2 separate regions of the Homo sapiens genome follow, and region 1 is linked to region 2. Evidence: fine-mapped expression QTL. Tissue or cell type: esophagus mucosa. Region 2 holds a variant in brackets; the other region holds the start of a gene. All regions are shown on one strand. Distances are between the middles of the regions.

Region 1 (4,179 bases), 39 kb after region 2:
GGTGGGGTTAATGGGATTACTTGCCCAGTGGGCTGCAGACCCTGAACTCTCCAACAGTCCCGCACGTAAGCTGATCCAAGGACACACCCAACCTGGGCCTGGGGCAGCCCCCTAGACCCCCTGCTGGACACAAGCACCTTTATGCAGCCCGGTCCCAGAGCCCTGAGCTCAATAGTGCCTTTGTGGCTGCCCAGGCCGGCCATGGGGCGGGAGGGGGCACCCGGGGGCTGGCAGTGAGCAGGCAGCAGGCGGGCAGCAGGATACTGCGGGCAGGGAATTGGGGCCGGCAAGGGGGTTGGCCCCAGAAACAGAACTGCTAGATCCAGACGGAAGGCGGGAGGGATATGGAGGGAGGTACTGAGAAGGAAAGAAAAGATCCAGGACTAGGCGCCAGGAGGCTGCCCACCCCCATAGTCGTCCCGCCCCGGCTCCTCTCCCTCCCCTCACCCCCCAATTTGGCTGCCTCTCCTGGCCTGGCCCAGAGCCTGGGGCGCGGCACTGGCAGGCGCAAGGGGCGAGCCCTGTGCCAGGGCTGGAGAGGGACCCTTCCCCTAGGCTCTGTCCCCTGATCTGAATCGGAAGCTTCAGGCCCCAAGTTGACTGGGTTCTCCTAACCCATATGTAGCATGGGAGCAATGGGAGGAAGGTCCCCCTAAAGCCCATGGGCTTAGTGCCTTTAGGTCTGGGAAGGGAGAGCACAGGTAGGCAGTGGGATGAGGAGCAGAACTGGACTCACTCGAGAGCTGGAGCTCCCTATGTCCCCCTCCTCGCAGCTGTGGAGAAGTCCAGAAGTCTGACTGCTCCAGAAGGGGTTAGGGGGCCCTATTCTGCCACAACTGCCCTAAATCTTCTGGAGTTGGAGATGACCCTTGCCCAGCTCCTGGCTTCCCGCATCCCAGCCTCCTGGTCTGCAAATAGGTGGGGGACGGGAGGAGTGAGGGGATCAAGAGGACCAGGGTCATAACTGAGGATCTCAGGACTTAGGGGAGAGGAAGGGATTGCGGGTACCCACCAGCAGGAAACTGACCTGAACTGGCTCCCCTGCCTAACTTCCCATCCTATTTTCCACCTCTCAGGGTTGAGTATGGAGACTTTAAAGTGAGAATGTTCATACCCATGGGGGAGTCACCAGACACCACCTGCCTCAATCTCTCCTTCTGCAGCCCAGAGTCAGCCAGATCATTCAGGGCAAAGACAGCAGAGGTGTCTATAGACATTTGACTGGAAAAATACATGCTTCCCTTGATGCTGTCTCCCCCACCCTCTGTCTGTCATCCTAAGACCTCCAGAGTCCCATCCCAAGGTGCCACCGAGGGGGCTCCCAGCCGCACCTGCAGCTCACACCAGGCCACCTCCACTGTGGTGTCGGTGTCTAGCCCTCGATACACCGTCTTGAAGGAGCCACGTCCAATCTCGATGTCAAACTTGAGGTATCGGCCATCGGGGGACGTTGCCACAGCCTGGGTCTCCATGTCCTCCTTTTCTTCCTGCTCCCGCCGCCGCTCTAGGGCCACAGCTTCAGGGACCCTTAGCGGCTCCCTGGACCCCGGGCCCACTGCAGAGTCCGGGAGCTCGGGACGCGCGGAGTCTTCCGCAGCCTTCACAGGGGCTCCCTCGGTCCACGTGCCCTCGGGGGGTTCTTTGGAGCTAGGCGGTGGGCTCCTCGCGGGGCCAGGACCAGCGGAGTCCGGAGGATCGGGGGGGTCCGGAGCGGGTGAGGCTGGCAGGGACCAAGAGCTCAGCAGCCCCAAGTCGACTGAGCTACGGCGGCTGAGACGAGAAGAGCGCGGCCGGGGCTCAGCCTTCCCGGAGAAGCGGCGCGCTCGGCGAGGAGGGGGCCCGAGGCGGGGCTGCCCCGCGGTGCCAAGAGGAGGCGGGGGCCGCAGGGCCAGGTCGGCCTCAGTCTGGGACATGAGGACGGTGGTCTCCGTGGCCGGGGATGCCAACATGAGGAAGAGCAGGGCGCCGAAGGGTAGAAAATCAGACGGCCGGAGAGGAGGCGGCCTGACAGACGGACTCGCTGGGTGCGCTGCGCTCCGGCTGAGCGGCTGCGGCCCCAGCCCCCAGCTCGGCCTGGCCCCGCCCCCGTCGCCGCCCCGCGGCCCGCCCTTGCCCCCCAGGGCCGCCCCTCCGAGCTGCTCCCGCGGTGCGGATCCCGCGAGCAGCCCCTCACCTTAGTCACCGCCCCGCCCAGCCGCGTCCCCTTCTTTCCCGAGCCCCCGGCCGCAGTCTCACTCTGAGGCCAGAACTGAGTGGGAGACCGCGGAGCATCCTCCCGCACTAAGAGTGAGCAAACCTGTTTGTGCGCGGAGGAGGGCAGGAGAGAACGACACCCGGACCCTAGTGGGGGATTACTTAGGGGGAGGCTACCACCCTCCTGCACACCCCAGATAAGGCAGCACCACCCCCTCCTAACTGTCCGGAGTAGCCCCAGGCCGAACGGAGAGGTCAGTGGAAAGGTCTGACGTTGTTGTCCCTCTGGTCTGCATAGGGAATGGGTGTGTACTCCCCAGGATAAGTCCCTCCCCCAAACCGAGAGCCCGGTCATCCATCCCCTCCAGGCCACCTTGGCCGCAGCCTAACCCTGGCCAGAGTGGCTGTTTTTGCTATATGGGCTCTCCTTCCTCCCCTTCTGTTTGCCAGTCTCCAATAAACCAAAGTCCACATCCGGCTTACCCCCCTCAGCTCCCCTTGGCCACAGTTACCCCACCCAGACCAGATGGGTGGAGGGAGGGGCTTCAGAGTAGTTCAGGACTTCCATGAGGGAGATGGTGAGGGAAGGGGGAGCCCTTAAGTGACTCCAATTCAGAGAGAAAGCAGTCTGTCCCCAAGCTGTGTTCCATCAGCACTCCTCCACACAGCCCACCCAGCAGATGTAAAACCACAGGCTCACTGGAGCCCACAGGGCCCTGGAGGACCTTTTCTTCTACAAAAGCCATAAGCTTTCTTTTCTCTCCCCTCTCCCAGGCTGGGATTTACTCAGGTGGCAACACTTCACAGCCCTCCCCATCCCCATTCCAGTACTGTAGTAATTTAAGAGGCAGGCAGTGGGAGTTGAGATTTTAATATCATAAATCGGTGTGGGGCCACACCTCTCACTGCCAGGCCCGTGGGCCTCCTATCTTCATATTGCCTGGAAGGCTGCCTGCAGCCAGGGCTTCCCCCATCCCCTAGGAAGGATCCAGCACCAGCCTGAGAAGGGAGGCAACAGCAGCTAAAGGGGTGGGAGGAGGAGGAGACAGAAGCATGTGCTGCAGGCGCATGTGTGTATGTACTTACATGTGTGAACACATATAAAGTGTCAGGTTTACAGACCCTGGCTCAAGGACAGTCTAGGATGGGAAAGGAGGTAGGGCGAGAAGAAGCACATATTTTCTCCCTGGTGCTTCAGCCTCACCCTATCCAAGGGACAGACATATGGGGTGTGAGAAACCCATCCCCAGGTCCCAGCCTTCAGGACTGGAGTCCTTTTGAGTCTGGTGGAGTCACAGATCCAGTCTTTGGGGGACACTGGGTCTGTCTCCTTTTGAAAGCCCTGGAAAGGTGGGAGGTAAGAAGTAAAGGGAGACAGGTCCCTGCTAGAAGAACTTGACGCCTCGGCCATCGCTGACAGTGATGATCTCGGCCTTGTGCTCCTGCTGTAGGGCCTGCAGAGCCCGCAGTAGAGTGGCTTCATCCAGCCCGTGGAACTCTGAACAGGGAGAGATAGGCAGAGACAATCAGCTCCTGAGGCCCAAGGCCTCTGAGGAGAGTGCTCTGGCTGGAAGCCGAGACCTCCCAGAGGCAGGGTATGCATAAGCCATCTATACTGCTACAGCTGCCATCCACACTTCCCAGGCACTCCTTAGGAGTAAGGGGTGGAAGAAAGCCTGAATCAGCATGAAATGAGTTTGTGCTTATTTCCCCCTTCTTGGTTCTCCTCTCAGACTCAGCCTCCCCCACACCTAGCATTTGTGTCTGATGCACGAGAATGACACCATCTGCTTCAGGGCCACAAAGGGGCCGTGAAAATCAGGCCTAGGGAGATCGGAGCCATTGTCACTAGACACTGACCCTAGAGGATCTATCCTAACACAAAGAATATAGCCAGTACCCCTGGCCAGGAGACTGTTAAACTCCAGCACTATTATCTGCCCTTTTTCTAGCTTTTAGCTGGGAGCACAGGCCAGGCGCGGTGGC
Region 2 (4,000 bases):
CTCCTTGCTATTCTGGGGGAAACAGGATGTTTGCTTTTGTGATGGAAAATTTCAGAGTATATCATGAACTCCTGTGTACCCATCACCTAGTTGCAACAATTATCAACACATATTTAATCAAGTTTTGTCTACAGCCCCATCCATTCCTTCCCACTCTGAATTGTTTTGAAGCAAATCCCAAACATAAATACTGTAAATATTTCTGTATTTTTGACAGATAAGGATTCTTAAAGATAAATGATACCGGCCGGGCGCGGTGACTCAGCCTGTAATCCCAGCACTTTGGGTAGCTGAGACGGGTGGATCACGAGGTCAGGAGATCAAGACCTGGCCAACATGGTGAAACCCTGTCTCTACTAAAATACAAAAAAATTAGCTGGGCATGGTGGTGCACGCCTGTAGTCCCAGCTACTTGGGAGACTGAAGCAGGGGAATCACTCGAACCCGGGAGGCAGAGATTGCAGTGAGCCGAGATCGTGCCACTGCACCCCAGCCTGGCGACAGAGCAAGACTCCATCTTAAAGTAATAATAATAATAATAATAATGATACCATTATGCCTTAAAAAATTGAACATTTCTTTAATCTGATTTAATGGGGGTGAGGAAGACCACAGATTCTTTTGGTGTAAATGGTACTTTAAGAAAAATTGGAGGTGAGGGTGGTGATGAGAATATTTCACATTCTTTTCCCATACTTTCAGATGCCCTCCTGCTTTAATAAGACTGTTTCTGACCCAATATTTTCCTTGCCCTTAGCTCCATTACTTACCACAGCCCAGGCGAAACCAGGAGAGACCCAGGAGGAAGAGACTAACTCAGGAGAGGTAATAGAAGTGCCCTCTCCCCTATCCTCCTCATGTAGTAAACATTCCAAATGAGAGATATGATATGAAAACAGGAATGCAGGCTTGGTTTCTGCAGGCTACTTGGCGCTTCTAGAGCTCCCGGACTTTTGGGATCTCTGGGTAATGAGACATTCTACATGATCAGGCTGCTATGCACCATTGGAGGTACAGATCTGCACCTGAGGTCACAGGGTTACTGAATTAGTCATTTTAAAATGTTGGAAAGGGCTCTTTATTTGAAGCAGAATTATAAATTATTGTAGGTTGGAGATGGGATGACCTGTGTGTCCAGGTCGTTCTAGAGCATTGATTTGCATCTGTTGTTCTAGCTAGTTGTTAATATCCACTCCTTTCCATTCTCAAAAGCATCCTGGTTAGGACAGTGAATTGTATGATTGCCCTGGACAGAAAGAATTGTCAGTGTTAGAGAACATGTCATTTTAAGCTGTGATAATATCAGGGATCCTGTGGAGCAACATCCTGTGAGATACTATTGAATACACACCTGAGATTTCTTCTCAAGTAGCAAGGGAGCTGGAGTATTTATTTACCCACAGCTGCCAGTCACTGGGGGAGTGCTGATGTCAGGTTTAGTGGAGGTCATTAATTCTGGCCAGCGCCCCCTGCAGGCAGTGAAGAGTCCAGGAGCCAGAGAAGCCTTTAAGCAAGGAGGCAAAGGGGTCTGGCATTTGAAGTCAATAGATGCTGTGAGATTTTGGTCACATATGAGTAATCTCAAAATACTGAAAACATATAAATTTTCTACTTTGTACTGTGGCAGACTTCATTGCAGTCTGATCTGGCTTTTTCCTTGTACTATGATTTAGGGCATTCTGTCCTCTGCCCCTGACTGCTAAGTGTTGAGAAATGCAAATTTAACCATACATAGAGTGTAACATAGTTAGGAAATGCTGTTCCCCACAAAAAAAAAATCAAATGGGACTTAAGGTTTGTCTGTATCGTGGGTCCTTTCTTAGTCCACATACACAAGGATTGCTTC[G/A]ATAATACCCATTTTTTAAGTCTCTGTGGTTTATCAAGTCTTGTGGTTATCAAGACTAAAGCCATATAGTTCTGAGGCTGTTTGGGAGATGAACTCTACCTCTAAGCTGCCAGAGTTGTAATGCCCTCTTATTTCTTTCCCAGGAGCCATTTATTGAAACTCCTCGCCAGGATGGTGTCTCTCGCAGATTCATCCCCCCAGCCAGGTGCCTACTACTTCTCAGCCCCCATTCCTTGCCAAAGGCTAGTAGAATTTTAATTAAATCCAGGAATCGAGACCTGGAGCCAGGTGATAGAGATGCATCATCACCTAGCCTTTTGGCCCTTTCAGAAAAGATGTATTCCCTTATACCTGGCCCGTCACCTTCCAGTATGGATTTTTTCCTGTAGCTGTTCACAGAGTGGGAAAGGATAGTAGCTTTAATGATGAAGTATTGAAAAAAATTGAGGGAGTGATTGACCAATCACCAAGAGATGGGCTCTTGAGAAGTTTCAAACTAGCAAATGTTGTTAGATGTTCAGGTCCTTAGTTCTCATTGCTGCAGGTAAAGAGCTTGCTGGCAAGGGGTATAATATTTTCTAAAATGGCCTTTCCTGGTTCTCCCTTCTTTTCCACTGTAGACATATGAATTTTTTATGCTCCCTCTCCCTCCTTAGTCCACCAAGGCCAACCTTCATGCTGAGTGTCCCTGTGGAAGACCAGCATGGCCTTCCTTTGGGAGAGAGGTACCCTTGGGAGGTCAGTCGGGCTAGGAGTGGGTATGTTCCTTGAGGCCCCTCAGCTGGTGCTTGAGAGTCTCTGCCACTGGCATTGTAGTAGGTGGAGGAAGCCTCTCTGTTCCCTCATGTGGCCCGTGGGCGGGGGGCTGTCTGCAGGATGATGTCCACAGAAAGTGCCAACAGCTTCACTCTGATTGGGGAGGCATCTGATGGCGGCACCATGGAGAACCTCAGCCGAAGACTGAAGGCAAGTCGGCCCCATTCCGGTGGCAAGCAGTAGGCCTGGCTGGGAGAGTGGGTAATTGAGCAGGAAGCATGGGGGAGGCCCTACCCTGACTCTCCCACACTTCCAGGTCACTGGGGACCTTTTTGACATCATGTCGGGCCAGACAGATGTGGATCACCCACTCTGTGAGGAATGCACAGATACTCTTTTAGACCAGCTGGACACTCAGCTCAACGTCACTGAAAATGAGTGTCAGAACTACAAGTGAGTGTCTCCAGAGCCAGGGCTCAGAGCTGTTACTGCTCTGAGACTGCTTGGCCCTTACCCAAGAGCCGTACTCCACTCAGGCAAATGGAGCTCTAGTAAGTATAGTCTGCCTGTGTCTTTGGCAGACGCTGTTTGGAGATCTTAGAGCAAATGAATGAGGATGACAGTGAACAGTTACAGATGGAGCTAAAGGAGCTGGCACTAGAGGAGGAGAGGCTGATCCAGGAGCTGGAAGACGTGGAAAAGAACCGCAAGATAGTGGCAGAAAATCTCGAGAAGGTCCAGGCTGAGGCTGAGAGACTGGATCAGGAGGAAGCTCAGTGAGTGCTCACCCTGTTCTATCTTCTCACACTCGAGGCTCCAGGAGAGGAAATGGCTTCCAGCTGAATGTGTCTGAATAGTTTGTAAACTAGTCAGCTGTCAGTCAGCAGCATGCCTGCCCCAGATCCTGCATATTGCTTCCATGCCCTTTTTCTAGAGGTTTGTTGGGAGAGTTACCTATGAAGAGTCAGCATGATTAAGTGAAAAAAGTATGTTGGTTAAATAGTGCAGAAACCAGAGCTCCAGTCTTGGCTCTGTCCTGTAGGGAATGGGCTCATTTGGATGAATCAGCCACTTTCTAGCCATCCTTAGCTGAAAAGATGAGCTAATTAGCCTACATTTGTTCCCTCCAAGCTTAAACATTTCATGGGGGCCAGGTATGGTCGTTCATATCTGTAATTCCAGCACTTTGGGAGGCCAAGGCAGAAGGATCACTTAAAGCCAGGATTTAAGGCCATCTGGGGCAATATCAAGTGAGACCCCATCTCTACAAAAATGAAAATTAAAAAAAAATTAGGCTGCTGTGGTAGACCTGTAGTCCTAGCAACTACTTAGGAGGCTGAAGTGGAGGATAACTTGAGCCCAGGAGTTTGAGGTTACAGTGTGCTGTGATCACACCTC

Which allele goes with the higher level. Positions count from the first base shown, and alleles are read on the strand shown. Sizes are in standard deviations (SD) of each study's normalised expression.
With allele G in place of A in region 2, the expression in esophagus mucosa of the gene that starts at base 2,038 in region 1 is lower (small effect, 0.29 SD a copy in GTEx).

Evidence for each region. PIP is the estimated chance that this variant, and not a neighbour inherited with it, causes the effect.
Region 1: it holds the start of WNK4, and the variant in region 2 is fine-mapped to the expression of WNK4 in esophagus mucosa (GTEx, PIP above 0.99).

Annotation. Positions count from the first base shown.
Region 1 is chr17:42,778,469-42,782,647 of GRCh38, reverse strand. WNK4 (WNK lysine deficient protein kinase 4) reads right to left here and starts at 2,038. Exons shown (of 19, transcript NM_032387.5): 1 at 1,332-2,038. The coding sequence starts at 1,949. VPS25 (vacuolar protein sorting 25 homolog) reads right to left here. Exons shown (of 6, transcript NM_032353.4): 6 at 3,049-3,691. The coding sequence ends at 3,579. RefSeq lists an enhancer at 1,008-1,965.
Region 2 is chr17:42,817,599-42,821,598 of GRCh38, reverse strand. It overlaps BECN1 (beclin 1), which reads left to right. Exons shown (of 12, transcript NM_001313998.2): 3 at 758-825; 4 at 1,990-2,051; 5 at 2,722-2,812; 6 at 2,919-3,055; 7 at 3,184-3,378. Among named protein-coding and RNA genes, the nearest start is that of MIR6781, 4.3 kb to the left of the region's middle. RefSeq lists a silencer at 1,500-1,549 and an enhancer at 2,620-3,819. The variant G/A (reference allele first, on the strand shown) is at 1,847.